Homo sapiens: one gene and its partners. The protein of the gene in region 2 interacts with the protein of the main gene of each other region in a biochemical or structural test. Each region holds a gene or a part of one and is shown on either strand. Other genes may lie near its edges.

Region 1 (5,930 bases), on a different chromosome or scaffold from region 2:
ATGGTAAAAGCAAAGGGTGAGATGAAATTGGTGTTTTTACCTGAAAAGGCTGTTAAAGGTTAAAATGACAAAATAAAATTCAGAGGGTTTGGAGGATTTGGTGTTTACGATTCCTCAAAGTGGGTGGAAGGTAGGGAAGAAAGAGAAAGGAAGAGAGAGAGAAAGATGCAAAGAGAGAGAGAAAGATGCAAAGAGAGGAGAGAAGCAGGAGAGTAGAAGAGAGGAGAGAAGCAGGAGAGTAGAAAAGAGGAGAGAAGAAGGAGGGAAGAATGAGGAAGGGGGCTGAGATATTTAGGATATAATGAAAGCACAGAAACAGGGCGGACAAGGGGCATAGAAGGGGGAGCAGGGCCATGGGGGAGAACAGTCCACCCAAAGGGTGATGCGGAGAAGATGGGCTGGCAGAAGCAGGACTGAAATGTTAAGGAGGGGAGGCCCAGAGAAAAGAAGCCAGGCCCATTCTTAAGACAGGCATGCCCCCCAGTGCCCCTAGGACTCAGAAGACACGCATCTTTCTTTCAGGATCTTTTATTAACGTATAGAAAATGTGTTTAAAAAAGGAACTATACAGAGGCTAAAAGCAACCAGGACTAAAAATACTAGTTAACAATGGTTAACAAGCAGAGATTCCAGTCTTTGAGCTACAGTGCCATGAAAGGATCAGAGAAGTTGGTTTTTCCTCTCCCTTCCTCTGTACATTTTTATTTTTATTTTAGCTAATTAAAGTGTGCATCGTCTGAGGAGTATGTACTCCATTTTCTTTTTTTTTTCTTCCTTCCAGTCTTTCTTTTAAGTAAGCGCTTTTTCAAGCTCATTGTAGCTACAAAGTCAATAAATTGGTCTTTGTTATTTTTACCTGAAAAGGCTGTTAAAGGTTAAAATGACAAACTCAAATTCAAAGGGATTGGAGGATTTGGTGTTTATGATTTCTCAGAACAACAATCTAGAGACCACCAGGGTGGGTTTCAGCTGCTCGGAGCCCCAGTTAATGACCCCCTCAGTGTCACAGTGATTTGCTTAGGGTACTTGGGCATCCCCATGGGCCTGGGGAGTATTCGAGGTTGGAATCATTAGATGTGTGTGTTTGTGCATGTGCACCTGTGTATGTGTGCATGCATGTGTGTGTGTGCATGTGTGTGTGTGTGTGTGTGTGTGTGTGTGTGTGAATGATTGGAAGGAGGAGCCTGTGTGTTAACCAAAATAGACTCACATAGATTCTAAACCTTGAGTCTGTGGGACCATGGTGTGAGTCTGGGCCTCCGCAGTTGGTAAAGGAGCACTTAGTTGGCCGACATTTTTGCAGGAATTGAAGTGTCTATTGCATCTAATGCACAGGTGTCACTGCTGCCCAAGCAGCCCCCACACTGGAATGGAACCAGTGTTCTGGGGTTCTTTCTTGGGGAGATCTATTCCTTTATATATAAACATCATTCAATTAAAGGGAAGGGGTTTATGTCTGGAGTTTTGGCCTGGCAGCTAAAAATACCAGGTTGCCAAGTACTGATTTCCTTCTAAATTCCCCAAAGTAGCAGAGAAAGCTGATATTGTAGCCAACTGTCTTCTGATGCCTTCCCACCCACTAGGGATGTGGGGCAGGTAAGGAGTGGGGAAAAGAAACCAGGGGGATAAGTAAACTGAATGTATCTCCTGCCTTCTAGCCTCATTCCCCAAATATTTCCACTGATGTACTCCCGCAGGGGACTGTGAAGGTGTTTGTACCCCTGGGAGTCTGGAAGGAGGTAGCCTAAATCAGTCTACAACCTGCTGGAGTTAGCCTCAAAATTTATAGGATATCTGCATTTGTGCTATCCATACTGGTTTGAATACACTAATAATATAATCCTTTCTTCCCAAATTCTGGAGTAAAATTGATGCTCTGAGAACATGTGCCATGTTTATTCTGTGGCTTCTCCTTCCTCAATCCTGGCTACACTGCCTGCTCCAGCTTGAAAAAAATGACTGGATATCCCACTCTTCTAATGTTGGGATGTTCCCAAAAGAGTGGGGTGGGGGGTATTGGGTTTATGTTCTGGTTCTTATCTTCCCCCTCTCATTCTGTTGGGGACCCTCTCCCTCGTCTACCAAATTTAAAAAGAAAGAAAAGGAAAGAGATGTCAGAATGTTTCTTATTCCCCATGATGATGAGATTGAGGGTCCCCTGGAGTACATGGCAAAAATAATGCAAGAATTTCCTTTTCTTAAAAGTCAGAAGAAGTGGCATCAAAGCCCCCTTGTAAGAATATTAGTAAAATCCAAGATGGTGGTCACTCAGCTAAATAAATATAAAGAGCAGCCTCATGAAGTGGAAAAATCAAGGGCTTCAAAATTAGACAAAGGTTCAGATTATGGCTCTATTTAGTAGCTGTGTGACTTTGAGCATGTTACTTAACCTTCCTGGCCCTCCCTTCCCTCTTCTATAAAATGGTTAAACCTGACTTAAAGTTTATGGTGAGGATTTAGTAAAGTAATATATGTAAAGCCCTTTGCACAGTATCTGGTAAATAGTGGGTATGCAATAAATGCTATTTATCTTAGTGTTCATTTGTGGAGAATCAAATTAAAAAGCCTATACCAGACCCGAACTCAGCTCTGTTACTAATTGCCTGTGTGAATGTGAGCAAATTGCCTAAACTTTCTTGCCCTTGGTTTCCTTGAGAGGAAATAAAATGAGAGGATTATATTAGATGATCTTGAGTCCCATCCAGCTCTGAAAGTGTATTTCCAACATTTGCCTGTTGGAGGCAGTGTTGAGCATATTAGTGCTCCATGTCAGAATATTAAAGAGCAACACAGGGTCTCCCTAGGGGCTGCTAAACCAGTGATGGGAAGAAAATAACAGTTCATGCATTCTTGTCCTTGTGTTCACTTACTGACAGTGCATCTGGACTGAAACCCTTTCTTGTGACCTAGGTGTTCTAGACCTGTTGGGTGTATGGCTTGCTTCTCAGGGAAGATGTTTGCACCACCTGACCTGAATCCATGGTGCCAGTGAGTGAGTGCCAGTACCCAGGAGAGCTGGCCTCATAAGGATAATAGAGTTAAATGTTTTTGAACTGGAACTTTAGCATTAGCCTGGCTTCATGGCCCAGACAATAAGGAGCTGTTTTATGAAGTTATCAGAGGGGGCTGAGTGTGTCTGAGGAACAAGAGCTGTGTTATTTGGATGCACTGCAAGAGCCTTATTAAGCTTGAGGAAGGAGAGAGGATTTCCCCTTTGGAGAAAATGCAACACTGTCCAAAGACTGTGAGGTTTGCCAAGGACATTTGGACAATGAAGTGCTGCAGGTGCAATGAAGTCATGTTTCAGGCAAAGATTGACCTTAAAAAAATAAACAGAATGCTGGAGATGACAAATCAGGCTTGTGACTACTGGTGACGCAAAAGTCAGATCCAGGCAGAACTGGTTGAGCAAAGAAAGAAAGTCCTTCTGCTTCTGGTTTTCGGTGCAGTGACAGGCCTTGGTGCCTTAGTTTCTCCTCAAGTTAAGTGGGTGAATGGCAGAAGCTCTGGTGGGAGGCTGGAGGCCAGAACGTGAGAAGCCAATGCTGCTTCCTCTCCCATGGCCGCTCCTGCCTTGTCTCTGCCTTTCAGTGTGGTGCCACCGGTAGAAGGCTTGTTTTGAATCTCCAATGATCCATCAGCTTCTTCTTAATTTTATATTTTTCTTCTTTCCACCTGTTTCTCAAGGCTTGATGAATGTAGAACTGGCATAAACAAATCCAGAGTGGATACAATTAGAAAGAACCAGAGACATTTTTTCAAATTGGACCTGAATCTACACCAATACATCATCTTAAAGCATATAGGAGTTACTTTCCCTGCTTGCTTTTGAAAGTTTTCATTTGGTCTGTGAGTTCTCATCTGGACTGGTAGTGTCCAAATGACCCAGTATTGTTGAAGAAAGCTTTATCACATATGTGTAGGATTGGGTTATGGAAGAAGCAAAGGTTTGAGGAGGCATTCAGCTAAACATCTTCAGGAATGTGGTCAAAGAGAGGCTACAGGAACAACCCCAGGGGCCAGCCTGTAACTCAGCTTTCTTTAGAGGATAGACCCTCTCTGTCATGGTAACCTGGATGAAAGCAGACCATCAGGGAAGTGAGGCAGAGCTGAGTATGCAGCTCCTGGCATCTGGGTGGGAGGCAGACTCCCAGACTTCACACATCTGCCCCATTCCTCTGAGGTCCTGAGACTCCTCCTGCAGCCGTGGCAAGTTTGAAGCAAGTGAAAACAAATTATCCCAACTTCTTTGGGATTATTGAAACTGAACTGAATTTTGAATCTTTCAGAGGTTTCTTAATAAAAATTTAAGAGTGGACAGTGAGATGCAAGGAAGGCGGAAAGTGTCCCCCAACCCCATGCCCTACCTCCTTGGAAGAAAAGACATGGAACTAAGAAATCAGATTGACTAGTATTCTGGTGATAAGAAAGCAAGCAGTAGAATACCATATATCCTGGGCATGTGGCCCCACCTTTCCTGAAATTCTGGGTGGAGGTTACAAAAAAGAAAAAGAAAAAGAAAAAATGTTTTCATGTCCCTAGGGTATTTGCAAATCCAGGTCACCAGCTAGTCTATTTCAACACCCATAGCTTGGTGTATCTAGTGTTCTTGCATGTTCTGTCTTTTCTCCAGAGGAGAGGACAAAGAGGAACTCATAAACTCTTTCCCAACTGATGCTTTTACAAGAGCTATTTGAAAAGATTCCACAATGACTTTTTGTCCCTTAATCTACAGCTCTGCTCTGAGACTGGATTTGAAAAGTAAAAATGTGATTAGGATTGTTTGGTTTGGCATTGAGGTTATTGGCAACCATGGTTCTTTAGGTCTGGCTTTGAAATATCAGGGTGCTGGTTGGTTCTCAGGTGGAAGGAAGCGGGGCATTAGGAGTCCTACCACTTTATGAGTAGTAGAGGGGGAAGTTGGTAGGTGAGGGACAGGTGGATTCAAATATTTGTAGATGTTTGCTTTGCATTTCCTTGCTGCCATATGTTGTTGTTGTTCTTTTACAAATCAATCTCCCATACAAATCAGCTGGCCGGTTTTCCTGAGTCCTGGTTTGGCTCTCCTGGAAACTTGGAGACGTGGCCTTTCTCAACCCCGCTGACGTTTCACACGGGGTTTCAGGAGGTGACTGCCACCTTGTGGCCACACTTAGCAAGTCCCCTTCCACCAGTTCACTGTGGTCTCAAGGCCAACAGTTTTCCACAGACTTGTCATTCTTGCCACCTCTTCTACACCTGACCCCTTCACCTTCCAGAAATAACCCTGGTGAATGTGCATCTGATATGTTGGAAATTATCTTTATATGTTGGGGAAATGCAAAAAAGGGAAACTGCCTGGACCTTGGGTCTAGACAGTGAATCTATTGCAGTCATTGGTGGTGGTTTTGGTTTTGGGTATTAGTACATATCCTGATGTGTCTGTAGTTAAACAGCCTCTGAGAAGGGTCTACCTCGATTCCTTTTGAGTCCCTTGAGGGAAACTGGTGTGCATAGGGTGGGTGCTTTGAGAGTATTGCTTACTGGATCTACCTTTGGGAAATGCAGTTGTGCTTGGAGGAGCAGGATAAGCAGGAATCAGCGAGGAAAGTTATGAGCATTGAGTCAAGTTGACCATAGACCTTGGGATGAGAGTGGGGCACAGTGTCTTTTAAACATGGTGAAAACTCATGAGAAAATCACCCTATTAAATAAAAGGAATCTATAAATCCTTTTATAGAGGGTTGAATAAGCTGATCTTTGAAGTCTCTTTCTTGCTTCAAAATAAAGCTATGCAATGCCGCTGGTACTATTTATAAAAATGTTCCATAGTGTAGAATGGTTTCAATAAAAGGAAGATTTTTGTTTCCACTGATGTTTCTTGACTTTCACCTGAATTGACAACACATAATCTTTTTCCATTTCAACTTCCTTGATGAAGTGGGCGTGCT
Region 2 (7,028 bases):
GTTGTCACTTATGCTTCAGAAGATACTCACGACCAGCCAAATAATTAAGCTGTAAATAATGAGGCAGCCATTAAGCTTGGAATCGTGTGTTTCATACAGTGCAGATTTCCGTGTGTATGACACATGCTCATGAGCACACACAGCTTAAGATTCAGATTCTTTCTACTGATACTGGTCAAGTTCTCAATGGCTGTACTCAGTAATTTTTTTCTTTTAAGGAACATGGCCTTAAAATATCTAATAGATGATCAAATAAATGACAATTCTAACAAGCTGTTGGGTACAAAGATACTGACAAAATCATGTCCCACATGAACTAAAAAAAAAAAAAAAACTTGATAACTTTGGCAATTGAGTTTTCTAAGTATATAATTAGATATAATATACCCAGTTTTATGTATATATACGTATATGTATATATATACATATATTGAATCTTCCATGCAATGAAGATTATGCTTAAAGCATAGGTCTTGGTTAACTTCTAGCTAGAAGACTAGACGTCTCCTCCTGGGTCATTGCATGGAAGATTCAGCCTCCTGAATGGTGATTCTAAGGGAAACACAAAATTAAAAAACTAGGAGTAGAATCATATATTGACAAGTTGCCTTTGAAATATCTGCCTAAGTCTTAAGTGGAAAATATTAAAAAACAAAAGGAAAAGAAAACCAAACACCTCTTTTAGTTCTAAATCTTCCCCTTATTATGACCTTAAAATTATGATTTGCTCTAAATAGATATAATTAAATATTCTGAATGTTCAACTACTTTGGTCTTTAAAATAGTTTCATCGCCAATTCTTATTACAATAAGCTAATGGCTATTTACCTTGATGCCTGATGAACAAAGAAATATAAAAACAATAAAATAAATGCCATGTTAAATAACACTGTCAATAAATAACTACAGTGTGTCTTCCTTTTAAATATGTGGTATCTATTCATTTAACCACTTCTTTCCATAGCATTAAAATAAAGGCGGCCATAAATTAGGTGTTTTCATTACGTTTAATTACTCCCCTGTAGAGCGGATGGTAAAGGTTGTAGGTTAGAGGTATGCATTGTACAGAATGGTGTTTTATGAGGATGAGAAGTTCCCAAGATACCACAAGTGATGATTGGCAGTGTAAGATATGAAGATTTTCTTTTTCTCTTATTTCCTTATGACTCATTAAATCTTGTTTGCTTTTCAAAGGAGGAGGAAGAGGGAAAAGACATTGAAGAAGGCGCTATTGTGAATCCTGGTAGAGACAGTGCTACAAACCAAATCAGGAAAAAGGAACCCCAGATTTCTACCACAACACACTACAATCGCATAGGGACGAAATACAATGAAGCCAAGACTAACCGATCCCCAACAAGAGGAAGTGAATTCTCTGGAAAGGGTGATGTTCCCAATACATCTTTAAATTCCACTTCCCAACCAGTCACTAAATTAGCCACAGAAAAAGATATTTCCTTGACTTCTCAGACTGTGACTGAACTGCCACCTCACACTGTGGAAGGTACTTCAGCCTCTTTAAATGATGGCTCTAAAACTGTTCTTAGATCTCCACATATGAACTTGTCGGGGACTGCAGAATCCTTAAATACAGTTTCTATAACAGAATATGAGGAGGAGAGTTTATTGACCAGTTTCAAGCTTGATACTGGAGCTGAAGATTCTTCAGGCTCCAGTCCCGCAACTTCTGCTATCCCATTCATCTCTGAGAACATATCCCAAGGGTATATATTTTCCTCCGAAAACCCAGAGACAATAACATATGATGTCCTTATACCAGAATCTGCTAGAAATGCTTCCGAAGATTCAACTTCATCAGGTTCAGAAGAATCACTAAAGGATCCTTCTATGGAGGGAAATGTGTGGTTTCCTAGCTCTACAGACATAACAGCACAGCCCGATGTTGGATCAGGCAGAGAGAGCTTTCTCCAGACTAATTACACTGAGATACGTGTTGATGAATCTGAGAAGACAACCAAGTCCTTTTCTGCAGGCCCAGTGATGTCACAGGGTCCCTCAGTTACAGATCTGGAAATGCCACATTATTCTACCTTTGCCTACTTCCCAACTGAGGTAACACCTCATGCTTTTACCCCATCCTCCAGACAACAGGATTTGGTCTCCACGGTCAACGTGGTATACTCGCAGACAACCCAACCGGTATACAATGGTGAGACACCTCTTCAACCTTCCTACAGTAGTGAAGTCTTTCCTCTAGTCACCCCTTTGTTGCTTGACAATCAGATCCTCAACACTACCCCTGCTGCTTCAAGTAGTGATTCGGCCTTGCATGCTACGCCTGTATTTCCCAGTGTCGATGTGTCATTTGAATCCATCCTGTCTTCCTATGATGGTGCACCTTTGCTTCCATTTTCCTCTGCTTCCTTCAGTAGTGAATTGTTTCGCCATCTGCATACAGTTTCTCAAATCCTTCCACAAGTTACTTCAGCTACCGAGAGTGATAAGGTGCCCTTGCATGCTTCTCTGCCAGTGGCTGGGGGTGATTTGCTATTAGAGCCCAGCCTTGCTCAGTATTCTGATGTGCTGTCCACTACTCATGCTGCTTCAGAGACGCTGGAATTTGGTAGTGAATCTGGTGTTCTTTATAAAACGCTTATGTTTTCTCAAGTTGAACCACCCAGCAGTGATGCCATGATGCATGCACGTTCTTCAGGGCCTGAACCTTCTTATGCCTTGTCTGATAATGAGGGCTCCCAACACATCTTCACTGTTTCTTACAGTTCTGCAATACCTGTGCATGATTCTGTGGGTGTAACTTATCAGGGTTCCTTATTTAGCGGCCCTAGCCATATACCAATACCTAAGTCTTCGTTAATAACCCCAACTGCATCATTACTGCAGCCTACTCATGCCCTCTCTGGTGATGGGGAATGGTCTGGAGCCTCTTCTGATAGTGAATTTCTTTTACCTGACACAGATGGGCTGACAGCCCTTAACATTTCTTCACCTGTTTCTGTAGCTGAATTTACATATACAACATCTGTGTTTGGTGATGATAATAAGGCGCTTTCTAAAAGTGAAATAATATATGGAAATGAGACTGAACTGCAAATTCCTTCTTTCAATGAGATGGTTTACCCTTCTGAAAGCACAGTCATGCCCAACATGTATGATAATGTAAATAAGTTGAATGCGTCTTTACAAGAAACCTCTGTTTCCATTTCTAGCACCAAGGGCATGTTTCCAGGGTCCCTTGCTCATACCACCACTAAGGTTTTTGATCATGAGATTAGTCAAGTTCCAGAAAATAACTTTTCAGTTCAACCTACACATACTGTCTCTCAAGCATCTGGTGACACTTCGCTTAAACCTGTGCTTAGTGCAAACTCAGAGCCAGCATCCTCTGACCCTGCTTCTAGTGAAATGTTATCTCCTTCAACTCAGCTCTTATTTTATGAGACCTCAGCTTCTTTTAGTACTGAAGTATTGCTACAACCTTCCTTTCAGGCTTCTGATGTTGACACCTTGCTTAAAACTGTTCTTCCAGCTGTGCCCAGTGATCCAATATTGGTTGAAACCCCCAAAGTTGATAAAATTAGTTCTACAATGTTGCATCTCATTGTATCAAATTCTGCTTCAAGTGAAAACATGCTGCACTCTACATCTGTACCAGTTTTTGATGTGTCGCCTACTTCTCATATGCACTCTGCTTCACTTCAAGGTTTGACCATTTCCTATGCAAGTGAGAAATATGAACCAGTTTTGTTAAAAAGTGAAAGTTCCCACCAAGTGGTACCTTCTTTGTACAGTAATGATGAGTTGTTCCAAACGGCCAATTTGGAGATTAACCAGGCCCATCCCCCAAAAGGAAGGCATGTATTTGCTACACCTGTTTTATCAATTGATGAACCATTAAATACACTAATAAATAAGCTTATACATTCCGATGAAATTTTAACCTCCACCAAAAGTTCTGTTACTGGTAAGGTATTTGCTGGTATTCCAACAGTTGCTTCTGATACATTTGTATCTACTGATCATTCTGTTCCTATAGGAAATGGGCATGTTGCCATTACAGCTGTTTCTCCCCACAGAGATGGTTCTGTAACCTCAACAAAGTTGCTGTTTCCTTCTAAGGCAACTTCTGAGCTGAGTCATAGTGCCAAATCTGATGCCGGTTTAGTGGGTGGTGGTGAAGATGGTGACACTGATGATGATGGTGATGATGATGATGATGACAGAGGTAGTGATGGCTTATCCATTCATAAGTGTATGTCATGCTCATCCTATAGAGAATCACAGGAAAAGGTAATGAATGATTCAGACACCCACGAAAACAGTCTTATGGATCAGAATAATCCAATCTCATACTCACTATCTGAGAATTCTGAAGAAGATAATAGAGTCACAAGTGTATCCTCAGACAGTCAAACTGGTATGGACAGAAGTCCTGGTAAATCACCATCAGCAAATGGGCTATCCCAAAAGCACAATGATGGAAAAGAGGAAAATGACATTCAGACTGGTAGTGCTCTGCTTCCTCTCAGCCCTGAATCTAAAGCATGGGCAGTTCTGACAAGTGATGAAGAAAGTGGATCAGGGCAAGGTACCTCAGATAGCCTTAATGAGAATGAGACTTCCACAGATTTCAGTTTTGCAGACACTAATGAAAAAGATGCTGATGGGATCCTGGCAGCAGGTGACTCAGAAATAACTCCTGGATTCCCACAGTCCCCAACATCATCTGTTACTAGCGAGAACTCAGAAGTGTTCCACGTTTCAGAGGCAGGTTAGTTACGGATCAGAAGGACAGATTGAGGTGTGGTGGTTTGCTTGCTCTAAAAGTAAAATGAAAATTATAGAAAGATAGAAATTTGGTAAAATGGTACATCATCATTTTTAAAATCAAAACATTCAACAAATCAGTCTCCAGTTTCTGAAGTATAATTTTATTTATTATTTCAAACAATTATTTAACACATTTTGGTTTTTAATTTAATTCTCTCCAAAATAGACAAAACAATTTTTATTTATTGTCAATATTTCATACTCTACAGGATGTCTTTTATGGGTGGGGGCAATTCTGTTTGCATAATACATTTTTAGTACACTGCTTTTAAAGCAAGATCAGAGTATGCTATTTTAGATGATTTTAATTTTCATACTTTTGTTCTAAAATAAGTTGTAAACTAATTCTATTTAATTATAAAATGAATTATTAAATCTGAGAGTAATGTGACATAAGCACTTCTCTCTGACACACCCCTGTAGAAAGGAATTAGTTAATTTCCACATTCATATCAGCTTGGGGAGCTTTATTTATTATTATTATTTAATTAATTAATTAATTAATTTTGAGACGGAGTCTCGCTCTGTCGCCCAGGCTGGAGTGCAGTGGTGCAATCTCGGCTTACTACAAGCTCCGCCTCCCAGGTTCACGCCATTCTCCTGCCTCAGCCTCCCGAGTAGCTGAGACTACAGGCGCCCACCACCACGCCAGGCTAATTTTGTGTATTTTTAGTAAAGACGGGGTTTCACCATGTTAGCCAGGATGGTCTTGATCTCCTGACCTCGTGATCCACCCGCCTCGGCCTCCCAAAATGTTGGGATTACAGGCGTGAGCCACTGCACCAGGCCAGGGAGGTATTTATGTATTTATTTATTTATTTAGTTTTATTACTAAGTTTTGAGAGTTAATAATGAAGTTAAAAAAAATTTTAATTTTTTTGTCTTTCTTTATCTTAATGTTGCCTAAAGAGGGCAGTGTAAACCATCAAAATACATTTTACTTTATGCCTGCTGTTACACACTTTTTTAAGTTAAATAATGGGCATTAATATGTACAGTATGTATAGGTATTGTATCACAAGATGTAAAACACTAAACATTTTTCTGTAGAAATGAATTTCATTTGTGAATGTATTTTATGCAAATTAGCTTACTGACCAGATGTTTCTTAGAGCAGATTATGTGCAGTGTTTATAATACAGATGTCTGCTTTAAATGCCAATGGAAAGAAGAGGGAAGTTCAATCCTATTAAGTATAGAAAAGTAATACTTTCATTGAATTGGTCATAAGAATTTTATAATTTGCTTTTATTAAATGTGAACGTATCTTAAAGTTTAATAATGAAACTATTTAAATCTTAACATCAAGTTAAATGATAGGCTAATGTAACAAAATGCACTCATTGTATAAAAGTGAATATTTGTAATCCAGAACATAGACATCAGTCTCATTAGAATATTTTTCCTCTTTGCGATTTCATCTTTTTAATTAGTTGTATATTTTTTCTTCAGTGCAGCAGCAATTAAAAGTTTGTACATTTTGATAGAAAACTTTTTCTGTATTCTGAATTGATACCTATTTAACATTGCATTTTAAACACTTAAATGCTGATATGTGAGAATGAATAATGAATCCATAGGTCACTATAGTCATTAGTGCTGTCATATATATGAACTGTTATCTGTTCTCAATTATAGTAGCTGCTTTTTAGTTTTCATTAGATTTATGTTAAAAGAAAATATCAGGAATCCATCTATCTGTCTTACCAGGTAGTGACATTGATACGTTCTTGCTAGACTATGCTATTATAGAAGGATATATATAATGAGATGCTAAACCTAAAATTATTGACTAAAGCTTAGCAAATTTCTCTTCAGTGCACTAATTAGTTTTATTTAATTATCAAGAGTGTGTTCTCCCACTAATTAGGATAAAACAATATGAATATGACATCCAACATTATCAAGTAACATAATTAGTGAAGTAAATAAGATCAAACAAGATTAGGGGAAAATTCTGGCCTATTTTTAAAACTGTATCTATAAAATCATATGTAATCTGTCTTATCCAATAATTGAATATATCCCTTTATCAAATGCATGCAGACTAGCTCTGAAACTTAAGATTTTATGGTGTATTTCTAGAATGCAGAACAATTTACAGGATGTGTTCTTTAAAATACTATAGATAAGGCAAATATTAGTATCCACAATTTATAAATGAGTACACTGACACCCAAAGATACTAGATTATTTGATCCAGGTCACATGAGTAAATA
Region 3 (6,937 bases), on a different chromosome or scaffold from region 2:
TGGTCAGGCTAGTCTCGAACTCCTGACCTCATGATCTGCCCACCTCGGCCTCCTAAAGTGCTGGGATTATAGGCGTGAGCCACCGCACCTGGCTTTTTTTTTTTTTTTTTTTTTTTTTGAGACGGAGTCTTGCACTGTGGTCCAGGCTAGAGTGCAGTGGTGTGATCTCAGCTCACTGCAGCCTCCATCTCCCAGGTTCAAGCGATTCTCCTGCCTCAGTCTCCTGAGTAGCTGGGATTACAGTCACCCGCCACCAGACCCAACTAATTTTTTGTATTTTTAGTAGAGACGGGGTTTCACTATGTTAGCCAGGCTGGTCTCGAATGCCTGACCTTGTGATCCACTCGCCTTGGCCTCCCAAAGTGGTGAGATTACAGGCATGAGCCACCGCGCCCTGCCAGGAACTGCTATATTTAGGGCACCCGGGTGAATGTGCATCCTGCTCTGCATTTGGCTGGTTGTGGGTCTGTTGATAGCTTCAGGAGAGAAACAGTGAAGAGGGATGGGGTTTGGAAATGGGTACACCTGATGTCAGTCCTTATTTATTTATTATTTTATAAGAGACAGGGCGTCGCACTGTCACACAGGCTGGAGTGCGGTGGTGCGCTCATAGCTTACTGCGGCCTCGATCTCCTGGGCTCAAGTGATCCTCCTGCCTCAGCTTCCTGCGTAGCTGGGACTACAGGTGCATGACACCACACCTGGATAAGTTTTAAAGTTTTTGGTAGAGATGGGGTCTCACTATGTTGCTCAGGCTGGTTGTCTCAAGCTCTTGGCTTAGGCATTCCTTCTGCCTTAGACTCCCAAAGTGCTGGGATTACGGGCGTGAGTCACGGCGCCTGGCCCACCGTCAGTCCTTGGCCGGGCCCTGCAGCAGGTGCCGCCGTTCCTACTCCCCTGTTCTCTGGCTTGCTTCCAGAGACTTTCCTTTCTCCTCAGGAGGCCACAAGTATTTGTCTAGAACAGTGCTTCCCCACCTTGCCTGTGTCGGCATAACCTGTGGCATCAATGCACCAGCGTGCCCAGGCTGCACCTCAGGTACTGGATCAGAATAAGGACAATTTTGCTAAATTCTGCAGGTGATTCTGCTGGAATCTGGGCTGAGAACCACCAGTCGATGAGGCAGGATCTTGGGATCTTGGTGTGGGTCCCCCAGAAACAGATGCTCAGAATAGGATTCTGCAAGTGGTTTATTTGGATGGTGACCCCAGGAACATTGACCGGGGAGTGGAATGAGACAGGAGGGAAGGGAGTGAACACAGGGGCATCACAGGGCTGGCTACACCACGGGTGACTGGAGCTCAAACTTGCTGGGAACCTGGGGAGCCACGGGGTAACACGCCGCGGAGTATCCCCCTTAGGAAGAGGGAGTGGGGGTGTCTATCCACTGCTTGAGGGCTGCTGCCAGGGTGTTGATCCTTTGTCCAGGGTCCTTTCTTCTTGCCCTTTTGTGTTCTAGCATATTCCCACAGCCATTAAAAAAAAGTCCTCAGGCAGAGAGTTGAAGGTGTTCTCAGTCATCTGCCTCTTAGCTTGCAGAGGTGACTGCAGTGGGAACCAGGACTGGGCACAAACAGCATCTGTTCCTGACGGACAGTAACAACCATCAGAACCACCATGCTTGAAAGGCTCAGGAGGTCCTGGCAACGGGCTACTTACCTGCATTAAGCGGCTCAATCCTCAGAACAGCTCTATGAAGCAGGTTATAAGGAGCCCCACTTATAGTTGAGGAAACTGAGGCATGAAGAGGTTATACCCAAGACTGCATGATGTGGGATTCACAGTTTTTCTCCTAATGCCTACAGCACAGTGGAGAGCAAGCAGGACTGTTTACACTGAACTTTACTGCAGACAAGAGGCCAAAAAAAGGGGACAGACTTCAAAAGGGACAGGCAGCTGGACAATCTGGCTTGCAAAATGCCACTGGCTGGCCCAGCATAGTGGCTCATGCCTGTAATACCAGCACTTTGGGAGGCCGAGGCAAGCGGATCACTTGAGGTCAGGAGTTTGAGAGCAGCCTGGCCAACATGGCGAAACCTGTCTCTACTAAAAATACAAAAATTTTGCATTTTTATAGGCATTTATTACAGGTATCGTGGCACGTGCCTGTAATCCCAGCTACTCAAGAGGCTGAGGCAGAAGAATCTCTTGAACCCAAAAGGCGGAGTTTGCAGTGAGCCGAGATTGCGCCACTGTACTCCAGCCTGGGAAACAGAGCGAGACTCCATCTCAAAAAAAAAAAAAAAAAAAAAAAAAAGTCACTGGCTGTCCTCTGCTTGCTTCCCTCCCTGGCCCAAGCCAGCCGTCAAATGGCAGAGAGGCTTTCCCGCTCCAACTTCAAAGTCCAGATCTAAGGGTGTGTGGCCCAGGGGAAGAGGGGAGTACCTTCCCCTACCTTCTAAATTCTGGCTTCTGTGGAGGGTAGGCCACCTCCCCAGATGACCCACACCAGAGGTGGCCATGCCTTCTAGGGAACCCCATCTCCACCACTGAGGAAGAGGCTTCCCCTTTGGCCTAAAATGGCAACCAGATATAAATGCCACCCCCTAAGCCTACTCAATCAGAAGAACCCCCAATCAGAAGAGAGACACCTAATCAGAAGGACCATTTCATTCCTTAGTGTAGATATGGCTTATTGCCAGGATTTGTGGCAGATGTAGGCACCCAGGCATGAGATGTGATTTACAGGCCTGGCAGAGACCTCTGCCCTCCAACATCTCCTTAGCCAGCCTGCCACGATGCCCAAATTTCCGGCCACCATTCATCACTCTTCTGCACAAAGGCACGGTCAGCATGTCCTTGTTCAATGCAAATTTGTTACCTAGCCTGTGTAACACATTATATCTGCTAACACCAATTTATCACCCATTTTCACATTAGCAGAGAGCAAGGCAGTGAGATAATGGAACTCAGCACCGGTAAATTTTGATGAAGAAGGAGCAGCAAAGCAGAGAGCGTGAGTCATGGCCAGTGAGTAATGGCCCAGGAAGGGGGCCGGGAGGTGGGCAGGGCAGGCAGCAAGGGGCCTGGGTATGGGGGATTGGAGGGGACCAGGCCCAGCTGGAGGAAAATAAAGTCTCCTCCTCGCATAAGCCAGGCTGCAGCATCGTGGCCTGAGCTGGGAAGACCCTCAGAGTCATTTGACACATGACTGAGGCTTTGGGCACTTCCCAGGGTGGGGTGGTCAGATATGACCTCGGGAAGTGCTTTTGAAGCCGGAGAGCTTTCTTCAGGCTGGCTCTGCGAGCTCCCAGGAGTCTCTGTCTCTGCAACTGCAAACACATCTCCAGAGCCAGGAAGTACGAGGAGGGGGAGGGGAGGACGCCTAGATGCTAAGAGACGACATGAGATCCTACATGCTTTAGGGTTGCAAGGGACCTTGGTGAGCTTCTGGTCACTATCATTTCATAATGGAGACTCTGAGACGTGCACACTTGATCGCCCACTGGCTAGTGGAGGATCTGGGGCTACAACTCAGTACGCCCCTGCGCCTGGCTCTGTGAGCGGGCCCCAGCACCACAGGCCGAGTTTATACTCAGATCAGTAAGCAAAGAGGAGCCACGGGAGTTTCTGACCAGGGAGGGGCAGAAGATAGGCATGTGTTGCCAAGCGAAATCGTGGGAAGCGGCTGATGAGGAAGCCCACGGAGGCACCTGGCAGAAGAGAAGGGTCTCCGCTGGGTGCGCATCTCTTCTGTGCTCTGCGGGAGCCAAAGCAGCTTTCGGCCCTCGGGGCTGGTGGCGCCCTGGGAAGCTGCTTGGCTCAGGGGAAGGAGCAGGGACCCCCGCCCGCCCGTCCTCGAAGCTGGTCCTCGGCGTCCCAGCCCCGCACGGCCCCGGGCAGGGCGCACAGCGGGGCTGCGGCCACGAGGTGGCGCCGGCGCGCCTTGGAAGCGCAGCTGCAGCTCCCGGGCCGCCCCAGCGCCGCTCGGCCGCCTCCTCCGAGGAACAATGCGGCGCCTCCGGGCGTAGCGTCGCGCGGGGCCGGACGCCGGACACCAGAGCGCGGGCGGCGGAGCCAGCGGGCGAGAGAGCGCGCGGCGGGCGCGGGTTGCCCTCGTCGAGAGCCATGGGCGCGGCGCGGCGCGGGGCTGAGGATCGGCGCGGCCCGGAGGCGCTGGGGACCGGGGCGCGGGCCCGGGGCCGCCTTTAGCCGGCACCGAGGGCGCGGGGCCGGGGATGAGGGCGCCCGCCGCGGGGAGCCCGTCTGCGCGCCGCGGCACCTTCCCGCCCAGCGAGCGAGCCCGAGCAGGCAGACGCGCGGCCGGCGGTCTGGGGGCGCGCCGCCTCCCGGTCCCCAAAATGTGAAGCGGGGAGGGCGGAGACGCAGAGACGGCCCGGCCGGGCGCCCTCGCCGCCCTCCGGCAGCCGCGCCGCTCCCTCCGCTGCACGCCCAGGCCTGAGCAGCGAGGCCACCGGGCCGCGCGCTCCCAGCTTCGCTCGGACGCGGCTTCGGCCCGCAGAGGGTTCGTGGCCCGGACGCGGCGAGAGCTGGGCCCAGGACGGTGCGTCCGGCCTCGCCCGCGGCTGCTCGCACCAACAAGTTTGAACAATGATCACCGTCAACCCCGATGGGAAGATAATGGTCAGAAGATGCCTGGTCACCCTGAGACCCTTTCGGTAAAGTTCCCTCCTGGTTGGTTTTTTCCCCAGGGGGGCGCCGGGTGGAGGTGGGCGAGGTCGGTTCCTGCGAACGTTCAAGTCCTGGTGGCAGAGGGGGCGGTTCACACTTCAACCCCTGGTGATGACCAGTGGGGCTGGGCTGGGGGAACGGATGGCGTTGGGGTTCGGGGTGCGGATGGGGAGGGTTGTGTTATTCGGGGACCTGTCCCGAGTTGGGCAGGGTTGGAGAGGACTCGGGGTGCAGAGGTAAGAATGGGGGCAGAAAACCCCCAGGTCGTGGTCCTGGGCCCAGAAAGTTGCCCCAGCCTGCGCGCCCCTTCCCAGCCCCTCAGGGTCCTTCCTCACCCCGCGGACGGTCCCATCCGGGTGGCAAAGTTAGTGTGCGGCGCCTTGGAGCTCCCCCTCCGGTCCCTCCCGTCCCGCCCGTCTGCCCCTAGGTCGGCTACCCCCCAACCCCTCCGCCTGTGCCACCCTCTCCCCAGCCTTTGGTGGCACTGCTCTCCTCCCCGCGGGGCTCGGGCCTGGCTCCGACGAGAGGGTCCCGAGATTAGAGCGAGGACTCGCTCATCCCAGGATTCGCCCCCGATCGCAGGCGTCGGAGAGGCGGGGGCAGGGGCGGCGCTGCAGGGCTACGGGGCGGCTGGAGCCGAGGCTGCGGCGGAGCGTGGTGGGCGGGCGGTGGCGAAGGCGACACGCTTCGGGCGGCCAACACCTGGGGGCCCAGGCCAGGCAGGGCTGGGGCCGCGCGGGACTCACTGGACCCAGCCAGGGGCCCCCAGGGCCCAGCGGTGCCGGGGCAGCCCCCTCTCCTCCCAGGCATCCGCGGAACCGGCCCGCAGCGGGGTGGGGAGGGGGCGCTGCCCAGTGGACGCCCGGCGGGGCCCGAGTGTCACCCCGTGGGTAGCTGGGCAGCGAGGAAGCTGGGGGAGTGACCGCCCCGGCGCGGGGGCCGGACTCGGGACGTGGCCACAGGTGGGCTCCGGGCGCGGGAAGGAGCCCGAGAAGGCGGAGCTTGCAGGGGCCCTGAACTCTTGCCCTCCAGGTCTCGGCCCAGCCCCACTGTGGTCCCCCTGCCGGCTCCAGACGGGGATGGGGGCGGGGAGACGGTGGCTCACCTGGAGCCCGCCTCCCAGCACACCGGGCCTGTCTGCTGGGCCGAGGAGGCAACCCCAGGGGACGGCAGGGGTCAGGCTGGACCTCTGCGGTCCGGGGGTCCGGGAGGCCCGGAGAGCTGGTGCAGGCCGTGGGTGGTGATGGGGGCGTCGGGAGCCCATGGGAAGCAGGGCGGGAAGCAGGCGTCTCTGGAAAGGGCCTTGCTCCTCCAGGGAAGGCCTTGAATCCCTGGCCTGACTGGGAACGCTGGAGGGTCCTCGCCCCTTCCGACCCCATCCCTGTCCCGCCCTCCGGGCCGCTGGGTGTTTCCTGGCGCGATTGGAAGCAGCCGCGAGACCCCAGCACCACGGACAGTGCTCGCGACCCAGGGCTGCTTCCCTGTCTGGTCCTGCCCTGGTTTTCTTTCAGGCCCTTATCTGAAGGCAGGATTGGGGGTGGAGGTGCATGGGTCCCCAAAGTTGTGTAACTTCACCCCAGGGTCTCCCTGGGCTGCCCGGAGACCCGCAGCCATCAGTGAGTCCCTTCAGTTGAGGTGGGGGGCAGGCTGCAATCATAGCACCCCAGCTTATTCATCCTCAAAGGCAGGCTGGGGTCCTGTTCCCTGTGGTTTTCCCAGGGCTGCTGGCAGGGTCTTTATTCCATAGGTGCCCCTGGAATGTTGCTTGAGTGGATACATGGATGGCTGAAGCCATTTTAACTTGAATCCACTCCAAATGGCCCCCAGCTGCCTTGGGGGACATTGAACCCCAGGATGGGGTTCTGGCAGAGGGAGATGCAGATGAGGTGTGTTAGGGGGCTTCAGGTTCTGGGCTGAAGGGGGTAGACACCTTTCTCATAGCAGGGTTGTTGGATCCTGGCAGGCAGCCCAGGTCCCCAGCTCTAAATACAACTCCTTCACTCCCCTGGCCTCTTCTCCAGGGACTAGAGACATGAGTGGGGGAAGTCCGTCCTTGTCCTCAGACTGGGAGGACAAATAGCTGATTTCCCCTGGGATCTCCCTGAGCATGGGACAGCACCTCTCCTGTGCCATGGCCGTGGCTGTTGTCTCCAGAGCCACCTGACTTCCTCTGAGGGACCCCAAGATCTGAGCCCCACCCCCAGGCTTGGTGGAATTCCGTGAGGCGTCCCTCTGCGCTAAGGAAAGTGTCCCTTGCGCGGTCTTGCCTACTGAATCATGTCTCCTGTCCTTCCTGCTGGGGGTG

The links.
Region 1: the proteins of PTPRZ1 (region 2) and TNR form a complex in vitro, tested with the Homo sapiens proteins (one study listed by BioGRID).
Region 3: of the proteins of PTPRZ1 (region 2) and MGAT5B, one has a biochemical effect on the other in vitro, tested with the Homo sapiens proteins (one study listed by BioGRID).

Annotation. Positions count from the first base shown.
Region 1 is NC_000001.11:175,314,682-175,320,611, forward strand, and holds the end of TNR (tenascin-R isoform 1 precursor), read right to left. Parts: 3' UTR 513-5,930; downstream 1-512. UniProt on the Homo sapiens protein: Neural extracellular matrix (ECM) protein involved in interactions with different cells and matrix components.
Region 2 is NC_000007.14:122,009,140-122,016,167, forward strand, and holds part of PTPRZ1 (receptor-type tyrosine-protein phosphatase zeta isoform 1 precursor), read left to right. Parts: intron 1-1,194; coding exon 1,195-4,750; intron 4,751-7,028. UniProt on the Homo sapiens protein: Protein tyrosine phosphatase that negatively regulates oligodendrocyte precursor proliferation in the embryonic spinal cord. Required for normal differentiation of the precursor cells into mature, fully myelinating oligodendrocytes.
Region 3 is NC_000017.11:76,864,479-76,871,415, forward strand, and holds the start of MGAT5B (alpha-1,6-mannosylglycoprotein 6-beta-N-acetylglucosaminyltransferase B), read left to right. Parts: upstream 1-3,925; 5' UTR 3,926-4,551; coding exon 4,552-4,619; intron 4,620-6,937. UniProt on the Homo sapiens protein: Glycosyltransferase that acts on alpha-linked mannose of N-glycans and O-mannosyl glycans.